Homo sapiens: one gene and its partners. The protein of the gene in region 3 interacts with the protein of the main gene of each other region in a pairwise test. Each region holds a gene or a part of one and is shown on either strand. Other genes may lie near its edges.

Region 1 (8,510 bases), on a different chromosome or scaffold from region 3:
CATGTTGCAGTAAAAACTATGGTGCTCCTTGTCTCTGGAAAGAGCTATGTCAATTGGCTGATCACCCTTCAGAGATGTGGTAAGACTGATTCATTCTGGCAGTACCTAGAAGACTGATCTAGATGATCTCTAAGATGTTCCTGAAAGCCTTTTCCTCCTGAATGTGTCTTGTTACCCATGATTATCTTTAAGTAATAAAGTTCAGTGTAGTGGAAAGTGTGTGCATTACAGTGGGGACAGAGCTCTATTTGGAACTTACTGTGTGATTTTGGGCAGGATACTTACCCTTTCTGAGCTTCAGTGTCCTCATTATCTCTCGAGACTGTTCTAAGAATTCATTAGATGACATATAATTCAAAACACCATTTGGGATTTAATGAATGGTTTTGTTTCATTTCCTACAAGATGACTTGTGATCAAACATCTGGGACCATTTACGATTTTTAAAGTAGAGTGTTGAAATGAGCTAATTTTCTTAGGCTTCCAATGTAGGTTTTCATTTTTTAAAAACAATAAACTTGATTAAGATTTGATTAGATGCTTTGTGACACAGTCTCTTTAAAAAATGACAAGGATGGTGAAAGTAGAAATGAATGGAATCAGAAGCCAGATGGCCAACATCATCTCTGAAACTTGAAACCGCAAGATCATCACTTGAAGTCTTTCCTTCCAAGAGAGCTAACAAACTCAAACTATACTATTCAACATCATAAAAGTATTTTAGCTTCCTGGAAGGTACTCCAAATTTCAGTAAGAAAAGCTCAGTGACAAGCACTTACTTTGAATTTTTAAAGGAAACTGTAATCTCACTGAATGAATCAATTTTTTTTTTTTTTACTGTTTTTCCCCAAGATGGAGGTCTCACTCTGTCACTCAAGCTGGAGTACAGTGGTGTGATCTTGGCTCACTGCAACCTCTGCCTCCCGGGTTCAAGCGATTCTCCTGCCTCAGCTTCCTGAATAGCTGGGACTACAGGTGCGTGCCACCATGTCCAGCTAATTTTTGTATTTTTAGTAGAGACGGGGTTTCATCATGTTGGCCAGGCTGGTCTCAACCTCCTGACCTCAAGTGACCCGCTCGCCTCGGTCTCCCAAAGTGCTGGGATTACAGGTGTGAGCCACCGCCCCAGCCACAATATGTGTTTTCTAGCTGTTCTCTTTTACACCTCAAAGAAGAAGTGGAAGTAAACAAACATCCCATTAATTCACAGAAAACCATTATTTACAAATAAGTTTCTTCAAATTTATATTTTATTTGTTAACAAAGAGAGCTACCCAACAGTCAGAAATCACTGAATTGCTAAACTCACTTATTGTGTACTGAATAGTTAATATCGCTAAAGCAGAAATTATACTTATTTTTTAATTTTTAATTTCCATAGTTTTTTGGGGAACAGGTGGTATTTAGTTACATAAGTTCTTTGGCGATTTTTAAGATTTTGGTGCACCCATCACCCGAGCAGTATATACTGAACCCAATTTGTAGTCTTTTATCCCTTACGCCCTTCTCACCCTTTCCCTGAAAGTCCCCAAAGTCCATTGTATCATTCTTATGCCTTTGCATCCTCATAGCTTAGGGACATATGAGAACATATGATGTTTAGTTTTCCATTCCTCAGTTGAAGTAGAAGTATTATATTTATTATTAATGATCATGACTCTTTTATTATCTATTACCATATTATATTACCATGGTACTCTTGAGAGTTCTCATTACGGGCTTTTTTTTTTTGAGACTGAGTCTCACTCTGTCGACCAGGCTGGAGTGCAGTGGCACAATCTCAGCTCACTGCAACCTCTGCTGCCAGAGTTCAAGCAATTCTCCTGCCTTAGCCTCCCTAGTGGCTGGGATTACAGGCATGCACCACCACACCTAGCTAATTTTTTGTATTTTTAGTAGAGATGGGGTTTCACCATGTTGGCCAGGCTGGTCTTGAATTCCTGACCTCAGGTGATCCACCTGCCTCAGCCTCCCAAAGTGTTGGGATTACAGGTGTGAGCCATCGCACCCAGCTGGGGCTATCTTTAGTAGCAGATGGTAACTGAGCTGGGCAATTGTTCTTTGACATTTCCAGTTCTTATCTGTTAACATGGACAGTGATTTAAATAGGCAGCTGCATGGACGGCCTCTCCCTAACTGCTGCTATCTTGTATCTCCTCATTGGTAATTATTTTTCCTAGCCCAAATTCCACGTCAAACACTATCAATATTCTGGGGACCACCCTTTCATACACTGCTCTGTACACATACCTGTTTATACATATTTTAACAAAAGTGGAATATTTACATACTGTTGTTATCATAGCCAAGCTCAACAGCATCAAAAGCATTTTTAGGTACTTAATTCAAGTGGCTGTAAAATTTAAAAAAAATCATTTTTTCTGATACTATATCATCTTTGTACCCGTATATTTCAATTTCTTGAATGTTCATTACAATTTTATTTTTACTTTTTATTCTTTCTTGAGACAGAGTCTCACTCTATCACCCAGGCTGGAGTGCATGGTATGGTCTCAGCTCACTGCAACCTCTACCTTCTGGGTTCAAGCAATCCTCCCACCTCAGCCTTCAGAGTAGCTGGGAACACAGGCGTGCACCACCACGCCCGGCTTATTTTTGAATTTTTTTGTAGAGACGGGGTTTCTCCGTGTTGCCCAGTCTGGTCTTAAAGTCCTGAGCTCAAGCAATCTGCCTGCCTCGGCCTCCTGAAGTGCTGGGATTAGAGGCAAGCCACTGCGCCCAGCCTTTATTACAATTTTAAATGTTTTTCTCTGTGTTAGCGAACCTTTGATGGACTGTTTTAAAGAGTGTTAAAGAGTGTTTAAATCACTGTGAAATGCACATTCTGTCTTAATATTTATAATTATTAGGGTACCTTCATTAATAGTGTACATTGCATAGTGCCAAACGAGATCACCACATCACTTCTAAAGGATTCCTGGAAGTCTGAGTCACAAGCATGAGACAACAGCTGCAGGACTGGGTGGTGAAGGTTGTGAAAACTTCCTGGCTTAAACAGGAATTTGACCCAAAACAAGAAGTCTTAGGGAAGATAGCTTAGGGCTTGTCTGGTGGCACCACAATGCCATCAAATGCCCAGCCTCTTTACAGTTTTCTGCTCTGCCATCCTTGGAATGCAGGCCATTGTTCTCCTGTTTGTTGTTTCATGACTGAACTATGAGTGCTGTAGCTCTTCACGTTCCTCCTGGAAGACAGGTGTAGGGCAAAGATGAGCTCTGATTCGCAGAGCCCTTCCATCTATATGCTTTCTTAGAAGCCTCAGCAATAAGTTCAACATTCAACTCATTGGCTTGAAGTGTGTCAAATGGCTGCCCCTTGCTTCAAAGGAGTCTGAGAAAATAACTTTAGCTAGAATTAAAGTTCCATTAGAGTGCCTGGGTAGACAAAGAAGAGTCAGCTACAGAAGGCCAGTATCATAGCAAGTTGTTGCTCCATGACTGGAAACAAAGAAGACTTCACTCTTTACTTCAGATGCGCAGTTGATAGAGTACAGCTAAGATATGGTACGTGTTCTACCATGAAGAGCAAGAGCAAGGTGAGGGAGGGTACGGTGTAAGAGATCCTGCTGCATTAGCTGTTGAGAGGAAGAATTTCCTCCTGGTCACTATGTTACTGGGGGTCCTTGCTCCCCAAGTTCCCAAGATGGTGGCAGGTCGCTTCCAAGATGGTGACGGGCCACTTCCGAGATGGTGGCAAGTCTTGTGTTCTCTGACCTGGGGTTCTTGGCCTCATGGATTCCAAGGAATGGAATCTTGGGCCAAGCGGCGAGTGTTATAGCTCTATTAGAAGCTGTGGGTCATGGAAGAGAATCGTGGAACCCAGTGACTAGTGTTTAGCTAGATTAGGACGAACCTGGGCACTTAGCCCTGCAGGAACAAGGGCAAGCCTTTAGCCCGATCAGGAGCAGCAATGGGCGCCTCGCTGGATCCAGAGGGATGGAAGTCAGCTGTGGGTCTGTGACAGCGGCAGACAGCAGTGGTGGACGGTGAGCGAAAGCTCAGCTTGAGCTGTGACACACACGTACCAGAAAAGTGTGCAATTGCAAGATTTAATAGAGTGAAAACAGAGCTTCCATACAAAGGGAGGGGACCCAAAGAGGGTAGCCACCGCTGGCTTGAATGCCTGGGTTTATATCCTGATCATTGTCCCTCCTGTTGTGCTCTCAGGCGATAGATGATTGGCTACTTCTTTACCTCCTGTTTTTCCCTAATTAGCATTTTAGTGAGCTCTCTTTACTACCTGATTGGTCGGGTGTGAGCTAAATTGCAAGCCCCGTGTTTAAAGGTGGACGTGGTCAATTTCCCAGCTAGGCTTAGGGATTCTTAGCCAGCCTAGGAAATCCAACTAGTCCTGTCTCTCAGTACCCCCTCTCAACAGGAAAACCCAAGTGCTATTGGGGAGGTTTGACCACCGCTCTAACTGCTTCCTGCTGAATTGGGGCACAGTAGGGGTTGTGCAGTTGAGATTTCCTCCGTAGGGGTGCCTTGTCTCTCAACTAATTCAGTGGTGGCTACCTCGAAGCCCTTCTGAAGCTAAGAGGGAAAGAGACCAGCTCGCAAAGTCCCCTATGTTATCTACTCCTAAGTGGAAGCTGGGAGCTGTGAAAATGCACATCTAACAACCCTTAACTTACTATACCGACTTCTAAACCACAGTAGAAAATGAAGAAAAGTTCGGCTATGGGCAATAGACTCAACCTTTTGTTCTATGTCTAACCTATAAAATAGAAAAATAATACTGTCATCCCTCATCTCCCACCATACTGAACACGCATTAGGTGCTCAATGAATACTTGTCCATTTTAGTGAAGATTAAGAGGAATGAGACGGAAACTGACACTTGAGAGGCTGGCACACGCCAGAACTGCACCACACTTTGCACTCATAGCTCATTTACTCATCAGCTTGTGGTCAGGTAGGCATTACCGTCCCCATTAGAGAAGTCAACGGAGGCTCAGCAAGGACGGCCAGGGTCCCCCAGAAAGTAGAGGAGGACTTCAGGTTTAACCAAAAGCCTGTACTCTTTACACATGTACCCCATGCCTTCTCCACCAAAGCTCCTGGCACCGTGCTTTGCAGACAGACGACGCTCAACACATTTTGAGCAGAAGCGTGGTTCAGCACCAGGAAGGACACCAACTTTTGCAGAGACGACTCTTGGGATGGAGAAAGACTTCCCAAATCTTCAGGGTGCGGTCAAGACAGGGTAGGCTAGCGCCAGGGGAGCTAGTGGCTAGGCCCCAGGGCAGCTGGGGCCGAGGCCGAGCAAACGGCCAGGGGAGAGGCTCCCAGGAGCCCGATCTGCCGCTGGGCGACGCGAAGCCTGGCGGCTAGAGTCCCGGGCAGCCCGAGCACGGCGGGAAGGCGGCAGCAACAGGATCGGCAGGGATGGCGGGGACGGGGGAGGTCCATGTGCAGGGGCGTGCCGCCGGTGACGCACTTCCGCCCTGCCTGTTCCGGCTTAAAGGGGCCCCAGACAATCCTCGCAATAACAACAAAACCGGCGCGCCAGCGGTGGCGCAACGGCTCTCGTCCCCGCCCTCCTGCTACCTGTAGTCGCCTGGGCCGCCCCCGGCCCAGCCCTGCCTTGCCGCCACCCTGCGCTGTCCAGACTGAGGGGTCAGGCGGAGAGCCGGGCCGCGCCTTCGGTCAGCTTCTCTCCCTTTCACCCGCGCCTCCTCGCGAGACCCGGGGCTGGGCCGTGCCGGTCGCCGCGCAGCAGGAAGGGAGCGGCTGCCACGGAAAACGCCTGGCCGGACGGTGTGGCTGGCGGCCCTGCCTGGGCGCGGAGGGCGGCGGTGGCGGGCCCCGCGGCCTTCTCTCAGGTACCCCAGTGCCCGCTGACCGCCCTGAGCGGCCCAGCTGCTTCCCCGATCCGCACCGCGGGGCCGTGGCGTAGGGGCCTTGTTGCGTTCCAGCTTGGGGGTCGCGGTGGGGCGGGGCAGTGACCCCGGGCCGGCCGTTGTGCCCTCATCCCTCCCACCCTTCCTTCGTATAGCTTCCTTTCTCCTCACGACGGCCTCCACAGTCCGGAGCCCGGCGGAGCCCGGACCTGGCGGGGAGAGCTGCCTCCACGGCCGGGCACCCAGACCCCACCGTCGCAGTCGCCACCACCTCAGTCCATCCTTGGTACCGGCAATGGGCTTCGTATCCTCCAGTGCACTTGTAACTGACTTGGACACGGAATACTAAGAACTCACTTCTGTCCTCATCCCAGTCGCGCCGGCGGTGACCATCTCGGCTCTTTTGGGCTTAACTGCCGCTCCTCTGGACTCTGTCTGACTTTGGGGGCACCATGGACCAAAGTGGGATGGAGATTCCTGTGACCCTCATCATTAAAGCACCGAATCAGAAATACAGTGACCAGACTATTAGCTGCTTCTTGAACTGGACCGTGGGGAAACTAAAAACGCATCTATCTAACGTTTACCCTAGCAAACCAGTAAGTGTGTAAAAGCTGGGGGCAGCTGCTCTGACCAGCAGCTTTTCGTGCCGTGTACCCTCCTTTTTCCTGCTTCTCCCCTCCAGTCTTGAATCAAATAGGTCTCTTTTGGTAGACCGCGAGGTATTTTGAGTTCTGAGGTTGTGTCTCCTGAGTGTTCGAACCATCATTAATATTTTCCTGATGAGGTTCAGTTAATTAGTAAGAGGAAGCAGAAATATCAAGGGACTTAAGAATTGGCAGGCAAAGACCGGGCGCGGTGGCTCACACCTGTAATCCCAGCACTTTGGGAGGCCAAGGCGGGCGGATCACGAGGTCAGGAGTTCGAGACCAGCCTTACCAACATGGTGAAACCCTATGTCTACTGAAAATACAAAAATTAGCTGGGCGTGGTGGCGCATGCTTGTAATCCCAGCTACTCAGGAGGCTGAGGCAGGAGAATCGCTTGAACCCGGGAGGCGGAGGTTGCAGTGAGCCAAGATCGCACCACTGCCCTCCAGCCTGAGTGGCACAGTGAGACTCTGTCTCAAAGAATTGGCAGGCATGGAAAAGGGACTACTTTCTTTGGACTTAAAGTCATCAACCTAATATGCGAGTGAGAGATATATCCTTTCTTAAAAAAAAAAAAGATAAAGCACTACAACCCGTATCAGAGCTTTTATTGCTTATTACACTAAAATTCCATTTTACTTTCAACACTTGGCCCAGAAACTTAAACAGAAATTGAAGATTTTTTTTTCTTAGAAATAAGTATGTGTCCCCTATAAAAATTATACTTTCAAGGTTACTATATATGTTTCAAGGACCAAAGAATTATAAGTTGTAGATTCGTTTTCACCACAACCCCTTTCAACATTTTTCTCCTGTAGAGGATACATGGACATTAGTTTAAAAGAGAACTGCCCTCCACCCCACCACCATTTGGTGCATCCCTCTCATATGGCTTTTCCATTCTGTGTTCCATTCTGAATCATAACTGGATATTGCAGAGATAATAAATAAAATATAGACAGTACAGCTCCATCTGTCCCCAAAGTCAGATTTGAAAGGCCGTGGTTGGTAATCAAGGAGTCTTGGAATAGTTTAGAAAAGAAGTATACCGTCATGTAGAGTACTGTATATGAAAGTGAGGCTTTCGCATTCTCCACTGTATACATTTTTTATTCTTGAATAAGTAGTGTTTAATTACTAAAACTTTTGTTTAATAAAGAGGGTCGGATTTTAGGGTGGGAAATAACTTTTGGCATCAGGTACATTTAAGCATGGATCTGTTGGAAGGCAACTATGCTTTCTACACTTAACACTTGTTTTATGCACCTAAGTTAAGGAAGACACTTGATCTATATTACGATATTAATGAATTATGAGCATTTCAGTGTTGTAGTATTAAGTTTAGTTAGGCTTTTAGACTTGCAGAAGAACCACAGAAATAGGACGGTTATTGCAAAAACAGGAGGTTTAGAAAAACAACTCTTAATCGGCATTAGCTGTGTTTATCAGTACTTTGTGATACAAATATTTTTAGTAGGAGGGAAAAAAAACCCTGAGGAATTTAAGTACTTAAACTAGTTAGAGCCCCTGTTTATTCACATCTTTTGTTTGAAAGTTAAGATTTACACAGGGAGTAAGAATCTGTTTGAAAATACCTTGATTACAAAAGATTTCCTGTTGCATATGATTAGTTTCACACATTTTTGAAGTGGAAAATAGGTTTTTAGGATAGTCAATTGAAAGTCATAGACTTCCATAATACTGTTCATAGCAAATATATGCTCTGGTATGTACGTAGGCGAGATCTTTACATTGTACTATTAAACCAAAAGGGACCTAGTCTGCAGTTTATAGACTTTTTTCTAAAGCTTTTTTAAAAAAAAGTACCTGAGACGGGAGTGGGAAGCCTGTCTGCCTTATCTACCCATGAAGAGGCCTGCTTTTGGCAGGAGGTCTGCCTGTGCAGCACTGATCACTAGTGGAGGATGTCAGTGCCGCTGTGCATTAGTTAGCTGTCTGAGGATGAGATCTGTTACAGAACTCCTTCCCAAACTGCC
Region 2 (7,869 bases), on a different chromosome or scaffold from region 3:
TGAAAATAATTATTTCAGAATCATTTCCCTCATTTTTTATTACACATGTTGCTTTATGATAAAAGCAAAAAATATAAATTGCTATTCTAAACTTGGGGATTTTACTTTAGTGATTGTTTTATGTAATACCCAACTAAGTTTGTATATTTAGAAATCCAGAAACAATGCAAAAGTTTATAGTCCCGTTAAATAGCTGGAATCATGATGTTATATTTTAAGCAATCACTGCTGTTCTCATTCATAACAATGAGGATCTCCAGGTAGTTTAGGAAATGCTATTTTTAGAGCATCAACCCTTTAACTAACCCAAAAGCAGGGGAGAAACCTAGCATTGTCACTTTCTTGATTTGCCAGGCTTTTATCAGTTGGTCTATCATTGTATTTGAAAGACATTAATTAGGAGTTTTTGTTCTACTATTTTAGAATTTTGCTGACTAATATTCCTTTGACTAGTTTGAATAACATTGGATCAACTCAGATGATGGCATTCTTATGTTTTGATTAGTGTATACATGGTGTACATTTTTTCTTTTACTTTTCACTTATCTGTTCTTTTATTTAAAATAGGCTTTTTGTAGACAGCATATTGTCGAACCTTGCCTTTAAAAAAATTGAATCCGACAATATCTGTCTCTTTTTTTTTTTTCCTTGAGACTGGGCCTCGGTCTGTCCCAGGCTAGAGTGCAGTGGTGTGATCTCATGGCTCACTGCAGCTTTGACCTCCCAGGCTCAAGTGATTCTCCTGCCTCAGCCCGTCAAGTCGCTGGAGCTACAGGCACATGCCACCACGCCTGGCTAATTTTTGTATTTTTTGTAGAGACGGGGTTTCACCATCTTGCCCAGGCTGGTCTTGAACTCCTGAGCTCAAGCTGTCTGCTTGGCTTGGCCTCCCAAAGTGCTGAGATTATAGGTGTGAGCCACCACTCCCACCCCAGTATCTGTCTTTTAATTGCTGTTTAGACCAGGGACCAACAGACTTTTTAAATAAAGGACCAAATGGTACATGGTTACAGGTCATGCTTGTATGTCATGCAGACATTCAACTATGCTGTAACATGAAAGCTGCTGTACAGTATGCAAATGAACCAGTATGTCTGTATTCCAAGAACACTTTATAAAAATAGGCATGGGCCAGATATGGCTCCAGGACTCTAGTTTCCTAACCTTGGCTTAGTGTAATATGATCACTGCTGTCATTGAATTAAAATCTGTTATCCTTCTGGTTGTTTTGTATTCTATCTGTTCTTTGTTTTTCCATCTTTTTCTGCCTTCCTTTGAATTAATATGTTTTGTGATTCCACTTTATTTCCACTATTGGTTTATTATTTGTACCTCTTAAGTTTTACTTGTTACCTTAGGTTTACAATCTGCATCTTTAATTAACATGTCTGCATTCAAATAATATTATATTACTTCACATGTAGTTTAAGAGCCTTAGAACAGTGTACTCCCAATTCTTGCCTTCCATTCTTTGTGCTGTTATCATATAATTTTATGTTATTTTCTCTTTAAGCCCCACTAATGTTTATACTTTAAATGATTCTGTAACCACCCTCACTGTTAAGATTTTTCTAGGTTTGTGACAGTAAGTTACAAGATTCATAAATTTGCACTGTTTTACAGGTGGAGAATTAGGAATATAGAGACAATAAGAAAAAAGCGTTAGCCTGACAAAGTCAGAGTGCTAGAAGAGAGCTTTCAATAGCTACAGATAACATTTCCTCTCATTCTTACCACTCAGTGTTTTTCTTTAGTCATTACCTTAATTATAACTCTTACTTTATAAGAAAAAAAACTAAAAAGAAAAAAACACTTTTATTTTAAAATTTACATTTTTCTTCATGCACTATATAATAAACACGGGAGTCAAATATTCTTTTTTTTTTCTGTCTGACAGACTGAAGATTGTCATCCAGTTTTTACATTCTTGATTCTGGGGTGTGTATTTCAGCTTTGAGTGTTTCAAGCAACAGATTTGTTGATAATTTATGATTCTTTATAATTTCTAGGTGCATACATAAAATCAGTCATGTTTTAGTATGCATTTCAAAGACATAAAGCTTTATTTTTTTCTTAAGAAATACGGAGTGTAATATGTTTACTATAATTAGCTGATTTTCTTTCAAGAAAGTTTGTGGGGCTTTTTTTTTTTTTATAGTATTTGTGTGGAAGTAATCGAAAAGACAACATATTTATTGATCCTGGATACCAAACATTTGAGCAAGAATTGAATAAAATACTGCGAAGCTGGCAACCAAGCATACTTCCAGATGGTAATGCTATTTTCACTAAAGGTGTTGCTCTCTTGATATTAGGATTGTTATTTTTACAGAGTATGTTTGAAAATATTATAATTAAGTCACTTAAATTAGATAACATTTTCTGAACACTTACTCGAGCTCATCTGCCTTTCATCTCTTGTTGAATTAGAAACAAATGTGGTCAATAACTAGTGTTTATGAAGAACTTTGTAAGAAATGTAATCTACTTTCTCTGGAGTACGAGACTGGATGTTCATGTCTTAAGCCTTCCAGTGGAGCTTCTGATGTAAATTTCTCTTAAACCACTGTTTTCAGTCCGTGAAGAAAATGTGTATGTATGTGGAGTCATCAATTTTTTTCAGGAATTTAAATTCCTGAATTTTAATTTTAAAAGGATTTACACTGTTTTCTGACCACTGTTTGCTTGTCCTACTGAAGAACAGAAGCAAACATCCAGTCCCTTATTCCATAGATAATAGTTCCATAGTAGCCTCTGTATTGTTAAAGAGCTGCATAGGTAATTCTAGAATTATTCTAGTTGATCTAATATGAAAGGAGAATTGGTATAGATTTGTCCTTAAATTAACTGTGTCTGCTTCTAGATGGTTAAATGAAAACTTTTATTTATTATAATTCTTTTAAAATAGTTCTCTCTATTTAAGGGTCAATATTCTCTCGAGTTGAAGAAGACTATCTCTGGAGGATAAAACAACTAGGATCACACTCTCCAGTAGCTCTTCTGAATACACTGTTCTACTTTAACACTAAGTATTTTGGCCTGAAAACAGTGGAACAACACTTAAGACTTTCCTTTGGCACTGTGTTTAGGCATTGGAAAAAAAATCCTTTAACGATGGAAAACAAAGCGTGTCTTCGATACCAAGTGTCTTCCTTGTGTGGAACAGATAATGAAGGTAGTGTAACAGATTTCTATTTTTATTTTTATTTTTAAATTTTTTTTGAGACAGAGTTTCACTCTTGTTGCCCAGGCTGGAGTGCAGTGGTGCAGTCTCGGCTCACCGCAACCTCTACCTCCTGGGTTCAAGCAATTCTCCTCCCTCAGCCTCCTGAGTGGCTGGGATTACAGGCAGGCGCCACCATGCCTGGCTAACTTTGTATTTTTAGTAGAGACAGGGTTTCTCCATGTTGGTGAGGCTGGTCTCGAACTCCCGACCTCAGGTGATCTGCCCACCTCAGCCTCCCAAAGTGCTGGGATTACAGGCGTGAGCCACCACGCATGGCCCAGATTTCTATTTTGGGATTGTCTATGGTAGGGATATCCAAACCTTGCCTTACTAAAGACCACCTGGGTCACTTGTTAAGAACCTAAGGACTGTCAGTTTTATAAAATAAGACAACCTATGTCTTAAGATGTCTCAGTTCCTTTTGTTTGAAAAATTGTACATTACCAGAAGCCATAACTTAAAACTCCAAGGGGCACCTGGTCCTATTCTTTGGTATAACAGACACTAGGAGTGATGTTTATATCTTTCTTCAAGATTAGTTTAGGAGGTTTATTTCACTTTTATTTTTTAAGATAAAATTACTACTGGAAAAAGAAAACATGAAGATGATGAGCCAGTATTTGAACAAATTGAAAACACAGCCAATCCTTCCAGATGTCCTGTGAAAATGTTTGAATGCTACTTGTCTAAAAGGTGAGTGTTAATGATACTTAACTTTTAAAAATGTTGGTAGAAGTTGGCTGGTTTAAATTTAACATTACCAAGAAGTGACTTTTTTAGATGGATTCTTTCTCAGATTTCTTCTCTCTCAGTTATACCCAAGTTCATTCAGTTATAATCTTTTATTTTGAAATACCCAGTTTATACATCATACTTAGAGTTTAAGCATGTGTTAAGAAATCTCTCTCTACTAATGAAATTTCTACTGCTGTCATTTTCTTTTGGAGATGGGGTCTTGCTCTCTCACCGAGGCTGGAGTACAGTGGCACGTGATCATAGCTCATTGCAACCTCAAACTCCTGGGCTTAAGCCATCCTCCCACCCTCTGCCTCCTGAGTTGCTGGGACTGCAGGCATGTGCCTCCATAGCTGGCTAATTTTTGTATTTTTTGTAGAGACAGGATCTCACTGTGTTGCCCAGGCTGGTCTTGAACTCCTGACCTCAAGCCATCCTCGTGCCTCAGCCTCCCAAAGTGCTGGAATTACAGGCATGAGCCATTGCGCCTGTCATTGTCTTTTAAATTACAGCAATTCCAATGACAGCAAAGCAAGGGACACAAACTTTTTCTTAAACGGTCAGATGGTAAATATTTTAGGCTTTTGGGCCTATGGAATCACTATTGTAACTAATCGGTTCTCTTGTGACTAGAAAGCAGCCATATACTATATATAAATTCATGGCATGTGGCTGTGTTATAATAAAACTTCACATAAGCAGGTGGCTGGCTGTAGTTTGCCAATGCCCGGTGTAAAGGTATGCTCAAAGGTAGTATAGATAGGTGGAAATGTAAGTGAAGTATTTACATTTAAGAGAAAACAGTCAAGCAGGTATGAAAAATGGAATCATGTTCTGGAATTTTTTTTCCCCTCAATCTCAGACCAACAGGCATTTTAAAAAGTTTAAGCCAATAAAACGTTTAGAGACCATAGATTATTTTATGCTTGCCTGTTGTTTTAAGTAAGCACTCTCTAATTTTCAGAAGGTCAGCATGAATTCAAAATGTACTTCCCTGTTTAAACAAATTTATAAATCACAGGTCCCCAGGATGGCCCTCAAGGACTTGTAAAAACAATAGTATCATGTATAGGATGATATTAGTACAAGTTGAATGCGCCTTATCCAAAATGCTTCTGACCAGAAGTGTTTTAGATTTCAGATTTTTTCGGATTTTGGAATATTTGCATATACATTATAAGATGTCTTAGGGCTGGGACCCAACTCTAAACATGAAATTCATTTATATTTCATATACACCTTATACATGTAGCCTGAAGATAATTTTATTTATGCATAGCCTGAAGGTGATTTTATTTTCCCCTTGGGGTTGCTGAATAACCTGTGTGTTATGTGCCTGTGTTTTGGGCGCGAACTCCTCACATGAGGTCAGGTGTGGAACTTTCCACTTTTGGTGTCATTTTGGCAAAGAGTTTCAGATTTTGGATTTTTGAATTAGGGATGCTCAGCCTGTATTTCTCACCATGGTTTAGGGTGGTCCTATTTGGCTGCAGTAGTGTCAGGGTCTTCAGTTGGTAGTAACTATTTGTTAGTAGGAAATTCCTATCTCACTATTACCTTGTTGGTATTTTAAAAATTGAGTTTCTATTATGTAGTGCTGTAAGAATTTTTTAATTTTATGTGCTGCCATACATATTTCATCAATTCTAAGACATTTTCACATTTCACTATTTCTGAAACTGGGATGCACAGTTTAAATTGTTGCATCTTGAAATCATAATTGGCAGTGTTTCACTTGCTTAATGGTAGCATTAAAATAATGAGTGGTGTGTCTATTGATAGTGTCTTGGATTTAGTGAAGTAGAATTAAAATTGTGGGAAATAATCTCTATCTCAGAAAATAACTTTGAGAATATTTTAATGACAGAATAATGGAGACAGTGGGGCATAGGGGGTCTGGTCATATAACGTGATTAATGGGGTCTGAATTATTCTTGAAAAAAGAAAAAGTTGTGGAAATTTTGTGAAATTGACTTTTTCTCTTTTTCCTCCCGCCTCCAAAGTCCACAGAATCTTAATCAGAGGATGGATGTTTTTTATTTGCAACCAGAATGCTCTAGTTCTACAGATAGCCCTGTCTGGTATACGTCTACTTCACTGGACCGAAACACCTTGGAAAATATGCTTGTACGGGTTCTTCTAGTAAAAGATATTTATGATAAAGACAATTATGAACTGGATGAAGACACAGACTAAAAAGGAACGTTGCAGAAGCAATCGGGATAAAACAGCATTAGATAGTCATGCTGCTAGATCTTTATTATGGAAAACATTTCAAGTTTACTCCTTCTGTTTTGAGTTTTGTAGCAGTGTACCCACGCTGGGTATTACCATGTAAATAATCTGTGAGTGAAAGTTGCCATTATTCTATGTAGTGGTTTTAGGATACTTAACAAATACATTCAAATTCTTTTTTTATTATTATTTATTTGATTAGGTATGTTTGTAACTTTTTACATTACAGAATATGAATGAGAATGTGCCATGTATAATTTTTTTCTTGTAGTAAGAAACATCCATATTGCACAACTCTACTGTTGCAAAGCTTCCTTGGAAGGGGGCTCTTTTACTGGGTTCTTAACCAGATGGTTGTGTATGGGTAGCACTACTAAAAGTTTAGAACTTGCAGTGTCTTTCGGAATTTTTAAAATAAACTGTAAACTAATAGGCTGGGGTTTTTGTTTTGTTTTGGGGTTTTGTTTTGTTTGGTTTTACATTTTAGTTACTGAAGCCTTACAAGGTTATGTAGAGAGATACCATCTTCTGTACCAAAAATAGACAAGAGAATGCTGTCAATATTGGTGTACTGTAATGTGAATCTATGCTGGTGAAAACAATTTTTTGTTCCCCTTATTAAAACCTTAGTGTCCTTTTCTCATTTGTGGCTTTCTGCATCACCCAATCAATAAAAAACAAATATATATATGTATATATATGTATGTATGTGTGTGTGTATATATATATATATATATATATATATAAATGATTGTAAGTTGAAAACAAGATCATCAAGACATTTCCTTTGTAAAAATGTCTGGTGAAAGTATAAAATTCTGTTTTCTTCTATGCCAGCCATAAGTATCTGAAATCCTCTTCATTTATAGAGGTTTGATTTTTATTTCTTTTTTTCCCTCTTAAGGATACAGATCATGCTGCAATGTTAGCTGTGTAGTACTCTAAAACTTAGCAATTTTATCAGAATTCTTGTGCCTGTTTACATTGGATAAAATTGTTTTTAGAAATTCCACTCCTGAAATAGTTACAGAAAGTCAAGCTATGTTAAATAAGATAGGATCACATTTTATAATGAAGATTACCAGTGTAGTAATTCTGATATTGCAAATGATTGAGGAACAAACAAAGAAACTAATAGAGAAAGTCAGTCTCAGAGGAAATCCCATTTAATGTTAGATTGTTTGGCTTTTGAAATTACTTCTTATAGAAGATTGCATTAAAAAAAAAAACAACTTTGTGCTTCTGCATAGCAATTTATCCATTCAGACCTTTTCTTTTAGAATAAGGAAACTTAAAATCTACTTTCTAAAGACTGAACAAAGTGCTAGCTGCAAATTATCTTGAAATCATTTGGCTCTTTTCTAGCATGTGTGTAATCATGTTTTCTTCTGATTCCTGAATGACCATGGTAGCATTAGTGTTTAGAAATTGTTCAGGGGAAAATTGAGCTATTTTCCATAGTGGCTAGCAATTGCTACACATCCTTAGATACTCCTCTCTCCCATAGGATAAATGTTACAGCACACAAAAGAAATTTTCTCAATTCTGATTTGGAAAATTTCACAGGTGTCATTATTGTATATCTAAGCAATAATTATCTGAATGTTTTGGCATAAAAAATTATAATGTTCTAACTTGTTTTATAAGTTGAATGACTTTTCAGTCCCTTGATT
Region 3 (5,778 bases):
GCTCACTGCAACCCCTGCCTCCTGGGTTCAAGCGATTCTCCTGCCTCAGCCTTCCAAGTAGCTGGGATTACAGGCATGTGCCACCATGCCCGGCTAATTTTTATAATTTTAGTAGAGATGGGGTTTCACTGTGTTGGCCCGACTGGTCTCAGACTCCTGACCTCAAGCAATCCTGCCTGCCTCGGCCTCCCAAAGTGTTCAGGACTGGCGTGAGCCACCGTGCCCAGCCTCCAGCAATTACATTTCAACATGAGATTTGGAGGGAACATTCAAACCATAGCAGGTGCAAAATAAGAGACCTTAGTTTTAAGACAGGTTATCCTGTGATACAGAAGAATTTAGTTATTACCTAATATTTAAAACTTCTAAGCCAAGCATTCTGTTTGGTAAAGATTTCTCTTAACTGTTAGATATGGCAGAGTGTGTAACTAATTTTAGTATTGTCTTTGCAGTGTATGCTGATGGTAGCATATGTTTAGATATCCTTCAGAATCGATGGAGTCCAACATATGATGTATCTTCTATCTTAACATCAATTCAGGTAAGTGTGTGTTAGGATGTATTATAATTTGTCAGTATTCTGTAGGATATAGTCAGCTCCTTAGCACACAGGTAACCAATGGCAGAGCTTGGACAAGAATCCATGCTTTTCAGCTAACTTTTCTCTTTCAGTAGTGCCTACTTGGGATCCAGTCTGCAGTCCCTTTCCTGATTGTGTAAGTTACATGTTCTCACAGGTCAAACCTAATTTGTGTCCATGAAGCATAGCCAAGGGTTGTGGAAAAGAAAAAATGGCTTGGAAAAACCATAGGAACCTAAAGAAACTGCCAAGTGTAGATAAGCATTGAGTATGTTACCCCATCCAAGAAATTCTATTTTAAAAAAAGAAAGGAAAACTAATGTAACCATTTGTCGAAGCAGTCTGGCAGAATATTTCAGAATAGATCTTTGAATGAAAATTTAGGAGGGGTGGAGTGAGGGGTGTTTCGGTTTTGTGGATTTGAGAGGAGCAGAAATAATATGTTGGTTTGTGATGTTCTTTTTAAAGTTTTTTCTCTCACACTTCTTTAATTGTTTTTTTTTTTTTTTTTTTTTTTGAGACAGTGTCTTGCTCTGTTGCCCAGACTGGAGTGCAATGGCACAATCTTGGCTCACCGCAACCTCTGCCTCCCGGGTTCAAGTGATTATCCTGCCTCAGCCTCCTGAGTAGCTAGGACTATAGGCACATGCTACCACGCCTGGCTAAGTTTTTGTATTTTTAGTAGAGATGGGGTTTCACAGTGTTAGCCAGGATGGTCTCCATCTGACCTCATGATCCGCCCGTCTGAGCCTCCGAAAGTGTTGGGATTACAGGCGTGAGCTACTGCACCAGGCCAGTTCTGGTCATCTTACAAGCGTTGTTTTTCAACCTTCCTATCTCATTCTCTTCCTGCTAAATGTATATGTTTTGTTGATTAAAGGAAATAAGACTTATCTCCCAAATTTACTGTCAAGACATTTGCAAAGTAACTGCAGTAATAGAGTTTAACCTTGGAAAATGTTGGTTACTGAGAATTATTGATATCTTAACCAAATTAAGCTGTTTATTTCCTTGGTTTAATGAGAACGTCTCAATATGCTTAAGAATATTCTTTTCTGATTTCTTTCAAATTATAGGTATTTTTTTCTTTTCTTTTTTCTTTTTTTTTTTTTTGAGACGGAATTTCACCCTTGTTGCCCAGGCTGGAGTACAGTGGCGCGATCTCAGCTCACTGCAACCTCTGCCTCCCGGGTTCAAGCAATTCTCCTGCCTCAGCCTTCCGAGTAGCGGATTACGGGCATGCGCCACCACACCCGGCTAATTTTGTATTTTTAGAAATTACGGGGTTTTCTCCATGTTGGTCAGGCTGGTCTCGAACTCCCTACCTCAGGTGATCTGCCCGCCTCGGCCTCCCACAGTGCTGGGATTACAGGCGTGAGCCACCACACCCGACCTCTTTTTCTTTTTTAATAGAAACAGGGTCTCCCTATGTTGCCCAGGCTGGGCTTGAACTGCTGGGCTCAAGGGATCCTCCTGCCTTGGCCTCCCAAAGTGTTAGGATTACAGGCACAAGCCACTGTACCCAGCTGAAATTATAGGTCTTAAGGCAATTGAGAACTTTATTTCAGAAGCTTAAGTTCCTTAGCAGCAGGAAACCCCATAGTATTTATCAAATCATTTCTAAAAGTATTTAGACCCAAAATTATATGACATGTTAATCTCTGAAGTAATTTGTTGTTTTGTATAACTTTTCTGTAATATATTCCATATCTGACCCCTGTTGGTATAAAGAACAACTATGCAAATCTGTTTTTTCTTTTCTTTCCTCCTAGTCTCTGCTGGATGAACCGAATCCTAACAGTCCAGCCAATAGCCAGGCAGCACAGCTTTATCAGGAAAACAAACGAGAATATGAGAAAAGAGTTTCGGCCATTGTTGAACAAAGCTGGAATGATTCATAATAGACAACTGGTCTGTTAATCTTTTTCATCATTGTTGTGTATAATTTACCTCTCATTAGAAAGGCTAACAAATTTTAAGTGCCACAGGTTTTAAGGATTCTGCAGAAAAAAAAGAAAAAAGTCCTTCAGTTTAGAACCTACAAAAGCTTGTGTATCTTGATTAATGTACTTTTTATTGCATGGTGTGAACTAAGTTATTGCTGCATAAATTTGTAATATATCCTGTTTGTATTTTTTTCCAAGTGTATAATGTTGGTGTGGAGTTTTCATGACAGAATATACACATTTTGTAAATCTGTACTTTTTTCAAATATTGAATGCCTTATTTTTGAATTCTTTAGATTTTTAAATTGGAGAAAAGCACTTAAAGTTTTTTATATATGAATATTACATGTAAAGCTGTTAAAATACATAACTTCAGTGCAAGAGACTTTGTCACTTATTTCCTTATGTGTGTAGGAGGGGTTAATAAGTCTCTAGCTCTCCATCTATTGATAGTTTCATTTACAATTTCAAAAGAACATTCTTATATTTTATCAAGGAAGTCTTCAAATTTGATTCTAAATAGCGATTATAATCTCCAACTTTATTTTGAATGTACCTCTATTAGTTTCAATTGAGTAATTCTAGACATAACTGGTTTGACTCTGTCCAACTCTGTATTTAGGCCATTTGTTACAGTTTCTTCATGCATTACTTACTGTTAAAACTGTACCTTTTGCGATTTCACAGTTGGCACTTCTGCCATGAGCAGAGAACTGATGCGACTTGTTTTGCTGCTTGGTAGCACTTTAAAAAATTTTTTGATTAATGAAGAAAGTAAAACCATAAACATTTGCCAAAAATTCATGCCCCAGTATTAGCAATGAATTAGTTGCATTGGTTTGAGAAAGGCACATATTGGAGGGAAATCTTGGTGTAACTTAAATATTTGAAAATTACCTTTAATGCAATGCATATCTGTTTATTCTGGGAAATGTTTTAATGCCAGGGCCTGCTGAGTTGCTTCTTCTTGTGGAGATTTTTTTTTTAATCTCCTGAGTTGTATAAAAGTTGTACTGCATCTTAGTTTACTGGATAAATTTAAAACACAGTATTGTAGAAAGCTAATACAAAACTATCCTATGCCTTCAAATAGTATAGAAAATGGAAAATATACAAGTAAATTCTGTTGAACCACCTGTGTAGTCTCTCTAGTAGTTAAAACAGCTATTTTAGTAACCCCAAGAGTTTCTTCTCATATCCATAAAATTGGATTACAGTATGGCAATATCTACAGCTTCTATTCATTATGCAACGTTTAACATTGATTGGATAAATGCTTATAGGCTGGGCCAGGTGGCTCCCACCTGTAGTCCCAGCACTTTGGGAGGCAAAGGCGGGAGGATCACTTGAGGCCAGGACTTTGAGACCAGCCAGGGCAACATAATAAGACTTTTCTCTACTTTAAATTTTTTAAAAAATTAGTTGGGCATAGTGGCACTTGCCTGTAGTCTCAGCTACTTAGGAGGCTGAGGTGGCAGAATAGCTTATGCCTAGGAGGTTGAGGCTGCAGTGAGCTGTGATTATGCCATTGCACTCCAGCCTGGGTGACAGAGCAATACCCTGTCTTTAAAAATAAAAGCTATTACTTGGCAAATTCTGAGGTAAGTGTATGATCTTAGGGAACTTTGATACAAATGGGAATTCACTCACTGGAATCGTGGCTCCCAAAAAGATGCTTTAATTGTGTGGTGCTTTTATAGTTTAGCTCCAAAACAAACTATAGACATTCACTCCAGTAACTCCTAGATTAAATATACAGTAGCTATGAGGGTCTGCCCTCTTATTTCATTAAATGCTATTTGGTTACTATTTCAACATCCATTTTTATCCTTGACCTGTTTTTGCCTTTCCCAGTTTAAAACAGGAAAATTTCAAGTATTGGTAGATAATTATAAAGAAGTTACATGTTACTTTACAGGGAGGTCAGTGAGTTCTAACTCCAAAATTCAACATATGCATAAAACTCATAGCATCCACATTCCTTTTCGAGAAAATCCTTAAGAAGGTTCAATCTATACATAACTCCTCACTTTTTTCTGCAGCCTTGGAACAGATTCCTATTTCTTTGGTTAAGTACCAGATATAAACCTTCGATTTACAAGGTTGAGTCATACAAAAAGTGTTTACTTTAAACTCTAGGTCAGTTTCATAAATGTATGGTAGGGCAAGAAGCTAGAACTAAAATGTTTATGTTGGTACAAAGTTATATTGATGGATTCATGTTAAAAAGTTTAAATGCATGTGTGATACAATTCCCTGTAACAATACCCCAGCACAGAATAATCTGTGAAAGGCACTATTCTAAGCACTTTTAACATATATTATTTCATTTCAAATTCACAAATACGGTGGCTCATGCCTGTAATCCCAGCACTTTGGCAGGCTGAGGTGGGCGGATCACCTGAGTTCAGGAGTTCAAGACCAGCCTGGCCAACATGGTGAAACCCCCCGTCTCTACTAATAATACAAAAATTAGCCAGGCGTGGTGGCAGGTGCCTGTAATCCCAGCTACTCGGGAGGCTGAGGCAGGCGAACCACTTGAACCTGGGAGGCAGAGGTTGCAGTGAGCCGAGACCTCACCACTGCACTCCAGCCTAGGCAATAAGAGTGAGACTCTGGCTCAAAAAAAAAAAAAAAGATGATAATGAAACTAGCCACAGATAGACAGATGAAGTGACTTGCTCAAGATCAACCAGCCAGTAAGTCATAGAACTGGGATTTGAACCCTATGTGGTCTTACCCAGAAATGTGCTATCTTTTAAGAGGTTGAGATTGGTTTTAGAAATTCTGCAGAACTTCAACATCCAAATTTGTGGAAATACTTTTAACTGATTTAGTTTTATACAGACTTGTGTCTACTCCAATGAAAAGGTTTCCTTTTTTTTCCGAGACAAGGTCTTGCTCTGTTTCCCAGGCTGGAGTCCAGTGGCTCCAGGCGGCTCACTGCAGTCTCAACCTCCCAGGCTTAAGCGGTCCTACCACCTCAACCTCCTGAGTAGCTGAGACTACAGATGCATGCCACCATGCCTGGCTAATTTTTTTACTTTTGTAGAGACAATGTCTCACTATGTTGGCCAGGCTGGTCTCAAAGTCCTGAGCTCAACTGATCATCCTGCCTCGGCCTCCCAAAGCACTGGGATTACAGGCATGAGCCACTGCACTCAGCTGAAAGGGTTTTCTTGACTACCATTTTCCACTGACTTTAGGAACATTTTCTGGTTTCTATATAAAGGACTGACTTATCAATAAGCC

Evidence for each region.
Region 1: the proteins of UBE2B (region 3) and HERPUD2 interact in binary tests that used the Homo sapiens proteins (3 or more experiments, as listed by UniProt).
Region 2: the proteins of UBE2B (region 3) and ZMYM2 interact in a two-hybrid assay, tested with the Homo sapiens proteins (one study listed by BioGRID).

What each region holds. Positions count from the first base shown.
Region 1 is NC_000007.14:35,692,136-35,700,645, reverse strand, and holds the start of HERPUD2 (homocysteine-responsive endoplasmic reticulum-resident ubiquitin-like domain member 2 protein), read left to right. Parts: upstream 1-5,510; 5' UTR 5,511-5,845; exon of another isoform or gene 5,846-6,018; 5' UTR 6,019-6,315; coding exon 6,316-6,462; intron 6,463-8,510. UniProt on the Homo sapiens protein: Could be involved in the unfolded protein response (UPR) pathway.
Region 2 is NC_000013.11:20,079,858-20,087,726, forward strand, and holds part of ZMYM2 (zinc finger MYM-type protein 2), read left to right. Parts: intron 1-2,158; coding exon 2,159-2,273; exon of another isoform or gene 2,274-2,279; intron 2,280-2,923; coding exon 2,924-3,175; intron 3,176-3,798; coding exon 3,799-3,919; intron 3,920-5,964; coding exon 5,965-6,157; 3' UTR 6,158-7,869. UniProt on the Homo sapiens protein: Involved in the negative regulation of transcription.
Region 3 is NC_000005.10:134,387,873-134,393,650, forward strand, and holds the end of UBE2B (ubiquitin-conjugating enzyme E2 B), read left to right. Parts: intron 1-452; coding exon 453-541; intron 542-2,352; coding exon 2,353-2,481; 3' UTR 2,482-4,236; downstream 4,237-5,778. UniProt on the Homo sapiens protein: E2 ubiquitin-conjugating enzyme that accepts ubiquitin from the ubiquitin-activating enzyme E1 and transfers it to a E3 ubiquitin-protein ligase. In vitro catalyzes 'Lys-11'-, as well as 'Lys-48'- and 'Lys-63'-linked polyubiquitination.